2 linked regions of the Homo sapiens genome follow. Changing the gene in region 2 together with the main gene of any one other region gives a genetic interaction. Each region holds a gene or a part of one and is shown on either strand. Other genes may lie near its edges.

The links. Genes that interact genetically often act in the same process or in processes that back each other up.
Region 1: changes in MRPL46 (region 2) and KRAS are lethal when combined (synthetic lethality), as found in Homo sapiens cells (2 studies listed by BioGRID, with this or other methods).

What each region holds. Positions count from the first base shown.
Region 1 is NC_000012.12:25,240,826-25,244,484, forward strand, and holds part of KRAS (GTPase KRas), read right to left. Parts: intron 1-3,659. UniProt on the Homo sapiens protein: Ras proteins bind GDP/GTP and possess intrinsic GTPase activity. Plays an important role in the regulation of cell proliferation.
Region 2 is NC_000015.10:88,458,923-88,461,787, forward strand, and holds the end of MRPL46 (large ribosomal subunit protein mL46), read right to left. Parts: intron 942-2,865; coding exon 691-941; 3' UTR 556-690; downstream 1-555.

The DNA.
Region 1 (3,659 bases), on a different chromosome or scaffold from region 2:
ATAAATACTTATTCTTAATTTGACCTAAATACAGTACCTGAGTTTTCTGTTTATTCTAAAAATCAGGTGCTCACAACTATTCTACAGTCCTATAAAACTCTACAAAATGTGCACTTTCACAATTTGCCACTTCTGAATAGGACCCTCCTATCATCCCCTGTAACACACCACCAAGCCTTGGACTCCATTAAGCAGCTCCTGAGTGCATGCAAAGAAGCTCAGAGAGCCACACTGCTGCCTTTTAGTCCCTTCAACAAAGTAAGCTCAGTAAGTGTTAACAACTGAACCACCCTATTTTCTTATATACTGCCTCGTTTCCTTTCTTAGTTCACTATACTCACCTACTTAGTTAGGCCTAACTAATACAGACAGTAATCTTTATATTAATATTAGCAGAGAGCAAAAATGATACGAAATCAATCATATAAGACTTTTAAATAAAACGAATATATTTATAAATTGATGCCACCCATAATTTAAACAGCGAAACTACACAAACTTAGGATTTCACTGTTACTTGTTATAAAGCAAATAATTTGACCAGTAGAGGGCACTCACAAAAGTGGGGAGAGCTTCACAGCCTTGAAGAGAAATGATTTATAAAATTGCTGTGTGTCTCTGATTTTAAAAACAGAATGTTTTAATAGAAGACTGGAGTAAGCTAACATATCATTAACGTACAAAAGTTAAAGTTTAAATCTTTGTTATACTTGAAAATCTAACATAAACCTTATGTCAGGGACATGAATTTGACAATTTAAAGGATGTTTAAAGCTACAGGTTAACATATCAAGGTTTGGATCTTAACACCATTGAGGTTTGGGGTCAGATAACCCTGTTGTGGGGGCTTTCCCGTGCACTGCAGGAAGTTTAATATTAGGTTGGTGCAAAGGTAACTGCAGCTTTGCCATTTAAAGTAATAGCATCTACTCAATAGATGCCAGTAGCAGTACTCTCTCCCCAAGTTGTGGCAACCAAAAACATCTCCAGATGTTGCCAAATGTCCCCTGGAGGGCAGTCACCCAACCATCCCTCATTGATTACTAAAGATATATGTATAAACTCAGAAGAATAGCAGCTTACAAATTACATAAGGCTTTTCTTATACCAGTCTTCAGTATCAGTTTAATTTTACAAATTTTCTCTCTATAATCTACATACTTCATTCGTAGGTAAAATGAATTCTACAATGAACATGGAAAAATAAAAATAAAATAAAAATTAAAATAAACCTTGGTAAATAAATACTCTACAGCTCAGAACACTAAAGATGAAACAAACCAATCCAATGATTAATCTGGTCTTCCTTACTGAATAGGAAACTGTTCCATCAAAGAGGGGCATAATACTTGAACTGAATTATAAGTGCCACAATAAAAGCATGCTGATGTCAAACAATTAGAGCCTGGGAAAAAATACTTCCTGCTATATTTATTCTTACTAGCATATTATATACAGTAGATACTTAATATATATTTGGTAAGTGATCAACTAATCATTCTGATCTCTGTAACTACCTACATTTTTTTAAAACGAGACTTTTCCTCTTCCACCAAATTTTACCTTAGAAAAAAAACTTCAGGGTTTTGATAATAAATGATCTCTGAACTATAAAGGTATATATTTCTAGCCAAGTATTGTGTTTGGGGGCTATTTTGAGTTTTCAATAATCTTGCCCTAATAACGAGGTATTTCATTATCTCTTTAGTGGGCTTCATAAAAGATAACAATATATACTTCACAATACAAGTAAAGGTGATTATGTGCACAGCCTCGAATACAAACATACTCCATCTATGTGTCATACCTGAATGATTTTACATCATACCTCTGCCACTAAGTTGCCATTAGATAGCAGGCTAAGTTCAAATTTTGGTATACTTACAAATCTGAATTAGTCTCCATTAGTAAATATTTTCTTAATTTGAAAGATAGCTAATTTTCAGTTTTAAAAAGTTATACAAGAGTACAGTGCAAATTCTACTTAACTTGGTCTCAGAGAATTTAAATTGAAATCCTACCACTTATTAGCTACGTATCCTTAGATGAGTTACAACCTCTCAGAGACATTATTGAAAGAAACAATAGCCACCCTCCTTACTATCTCTTAGTGTAAATTTTGAAAAATCTAAATCACCAAAAAATACAGTATTACTTGATTTAAATTTTTAAAAAATTTATTTCCATTTTAAATGTAGAAAAACTGCTAATAATTCCAAAATGTGCAGTCATATCCTTTCTAATTTTCTCTCTGACCCACACGGATTGGTAAATACCAATCAAAACCTGCAATGGCAGTGAAATCCCCATATCCTCCTAAATTTTTAACTTTTTACAATAACATGGAGTCAGCATTTCCATTTAACCAACTATTTAACTACTAAGTTCTCCTGCCTTTCTTACAGTTTAACTACACCAAGAACTTAATGTAATGTGTCAGTTCCCTCAGAGACTCACTGTAACTTGGGAGATAAGAGATAATCTCAGATACCTTTTCCCAGGTGACTAAACTACGTCAGGGACCGTCAGTTTCAAAGTTCACAGGTAACCAATGCTTCCCAGAGTCAAGTCTTCTGGTTTGGCAGAAATCATAAGCAGAGTTATAGGTTTAAGTTTATAAACTTTTTCAGCCTTCCGCCCAAATAAAGGCTTAACTGTTAGCTTTATTTCTTCAACATTTATATTGCATTTTAACAATCATTAGCAAAAGGTTTCCTAACCCACTTTATCACATTCATGACGTCATGCTGTATATACTCATATAGCACTCATGACCTCTGATTGGAAACAAAGTGTAATGGAATTTCTCAGATTTTCAGGGAAGACAGACAGCATTTCCAGTAAAATCACCTTCCAAAATCCCAGGAAAACTTTCAGGCATAAAGTGAATTATATTAAAACTTCCTTTTACATCTGATTTAAATAGTAGAGTCTGCCAAGTAACCCTGAATTTGCAATACAGATTAAAATGGGTGCACTATTCAAACCTCTTCAAAGAAACAAAACTATAGTACACATTGAATTAACTTGTCAAAAGTAAATATACAGAGACTATTGCATAGGCAGTCTACTTCAATTAGACTGTTCCCCTTTACTGCTGTAAATTCTTAAAATTGGAAGCCAAATAAAGTTGTTTCTATGTTTAAATCAAATCTTTGCAAATAGGCATTATTTCTCCACTTTTTTATAGTACCAAAAATATGTGACGTTTCCTTATGATTAGTTATCTAATCAATTCTCCAGGTTCTAAACTGCATAAATATCTTCCCAAGGCCACCCAATGCCCTCAGAACTTGCCTCAGCGCAAAGTGTCTCTTCAAGACACTACACAGTACAGTACGTTAATAAGGCACTTTGACCTGTTCTAGATTTCACAGCTTGGAACTTGAAGAAAGTTCTTAGAAATTTTTCAGAACTGATTTTTTTAAATTAGTACACTAGATGTAGAATAAATGCTAAAGTATTAGGACTGCTTAACCCAGGGTAAAGAAGCCTAAGAAACAATCTAACAATATAGGGCTATTTCAAAGACAAGGCGATATGCTTATTTTCCATCTCCACTGATGTTAAATTTAACATGAAGATCCAAATTACATGTAAAATATGCTAATAAATATGTTCTGAAAATGAGTTAACAAGGACAGTTGGGGAATGTCCCC
Region 2 (2,865 bases):
AACAACACACTGAAGAGCCAAGAGCCCCAGAGGTGAGGGGCATTGGGGTCAGCATTCTCCTCTAGCACCAACAGGCACATGCAGTATGACTCTGGGCTAAGTCACAACCTGGCCGTGATTCCTCCATCTGTAGAATGGAGATAAACTAACTGCACATTTCACATGACTGTTTCAAAAAAGGTTAAGACATAACTCAATTCTTTTTAAAATAAAATGCTTTTAGGAAGGGGGGGAAAGAAGGAAGGATTATTTCCCAGGCTAGATTAAAACACCTTCATATCAAGTGCAGAGGGAAGGAAAAACAAACTGGAAATGGCTAAGAAACTATATAGAACTAGTTTTTTCCCAAGGGCCTAGAGAAGCTTTCACAGAATTCAAGGCTTTCGGGAAGTCAATTCATTTCCTTCTGTCCTTTCTTCCTGGGCCCAGTAACTCAGTGACGCACTGTAATATAATCCAGTACTCAGTGATCACCTTGGGAAAAAAATGGAAAGACACCCTAAGAGATGGCTCTCTTCACTGGGCCATCAAAGGGCAAATCAGCTGAGACCAACACAGTAATAGACTCGTTTATTTCTCAGAATTTAGTTTGCTGCTTGATATTACCTGCAAATGTGAGGCAATCACACAATGTCCTTGAGGCTCTAATCCCAGACTTGTCTGAGCACCGTCCACAGGCAGCTCGGCCCATCAGAGGTCTGAAACAAACCTCCTAACTTGGGCCAGGTATTTTGGTTTCAAATAGTCACCCAGCTCATCCTTAGTGACCCACACATGATGGCCCTTATTCCCAGCCTGGGAAAAGTCTCCAGTTAATAGCAGTGCTTTGAAGAAGAACACCTTGGCTCCGAGGTTACTCTCTGTCCGCATTGCCTGGGGGAACTTGAATGTGTAGTGCCCACAGGGTGCATTTCCTAGGAACTTGGCTTCCATGTTGTTTTCTGAAGAGGGAGGAAAGAAAAATCACAATTGGAAGGTAAGGATACAGCCATCTGTTTACTCTGGCTCCCAAAATTATAGGGGGTCCCTGCAAGATCTGGCCCTGAGGTAAAATCAATCCCTAGGAATAGGACTAGAGCCATTCCTGAAAAGAGGCTCCTCCCCTCTCAATCCAAATGCCTCCTGGCCCATGGAGTCCAGATTCACCAGGCTCACTCCCATGTGCCAAGCTACTGTTTTTAGACTGAAAGTCAGCAACACAGTTACAATCACACCTGGGAGTCAGAGCACCTAGTTCCTACATTCAGCCCAGTCGCTATCTGCTGGCGAATCAGCCCAGTCGCTATGCTGGCGAATCAGCCCAGTCGCTATCTGCTGGCGAATCAGCCCAGTCGCTATCTGTTGGCGAATCAGCCCAGTCGCTAACTGTTGGTGAATCAGCCCAGTCGCTATCTGCTGGTGAAGGACGAGGACATTTGGTCTGTAAAACAAAGTTCATCCACCTTTAAAATGGGTGTCACCTGGAAAGCATTAAAAAGGACCCCAGTTTTAACTCCTACCTAGTGAAAAAAGGCATAAACCAAGTTAAAGACAAAAACAGATGAGTAGACAGTATCTGTAATCTATAACTAAGGGTTAACAACCCCAATTCAGCATTTCAAATGATGGGGAAATGATGGACTAATTACTAAACGGCATCTGAAGAACTGATTAGCCAGATGGGAAAAACCAAGCTGGATTCCATACTCAGTCCTCACAATAAAATTGATACCATATAGATCAAAGATTTAACAATAGACATTTTAACTTTTCATAAAAAATTTATTCATTCTGGATGGTTGTTTCATGGACATTTAATATTTTCCAATCTTCTCTGTATTTTTTTTTTCCCAAGACAGAGTCTCGCTTTGTCACCCAGGCTGGAGTGCAGTCGTGCAATCTTGGTTCACTACCACCTCAGGCTCCTGGGTTCAAAGGATTCTCATGCCTCAGCCTCCTGAGTAGCTGGGATTACAGGCATGTGCCACCACACTCAGCTAATTTTTTTTCTGTATTTTTAGTACAGACGGGGTTTTGCCATGTTGGTCAGGCTGGTCTTGAACTTGTGGCCTCAAGTGATCCGCCTACCTCGGCCTCCCAAAGTGCAGGGCATATTTTCTAATTACAATAAAAACACATGAGCATTAGAAGAAAATGCAGGATGCTTTCTTAAACCTTAAGATATTATTTGAGAGGGCAAGGCCTTTCTAAGCAAGAAACAAAATTTTTAAGCCCAAAAAACAAAAGATTTATATTTGTCTACATAAAAATTAAATCTTTCTGCAAGGAAAAATGAAGCACAAAAAAAGTCAAAGACAAAATGACAAACTAGGAAAAATATTTTCAACACGTTCAACAAAGGAATATCTTAAGGTATAAGAAGCACTTAAAAATCAATGCAGATACTCAGGAAGCTGAGGCAGGAGTACTGCTTGAGAATAGGAGTTTAAGGCCAGCCTGGGCAACATAGCAAGATTCCATCTCTAAAGGAAAAAAAATCAATGAGGAAAAAAAACAACAAATTAAAAAGAAAAATGAACCAAGCACATGAACAGTTAAGCTCACATGAAAATAAATATCACTGGCCCATAAATACATTAAAAGGTGTTCAAACTTATTAATAATTTAAAGAAATAAAGTTAAACAACAACATATATCATTATTGAAGTTCAAAAACTTAACTGTACTCTGCTTATGAAGGATAAGGAAAAAACCTGTACTTTCACACATATTTTGGAGGGGTTATAAATTAGTATAAGTGCTATTAATTGGCAAGAGGTGTCAACTTAATTGCACATGCCCTTTGACCTAGCAACTCCAGTTCTAGACTTTTATCCTACCAGATATACTAATTTGCCCATGTGAGCAAAGATGAGCATACAAGGA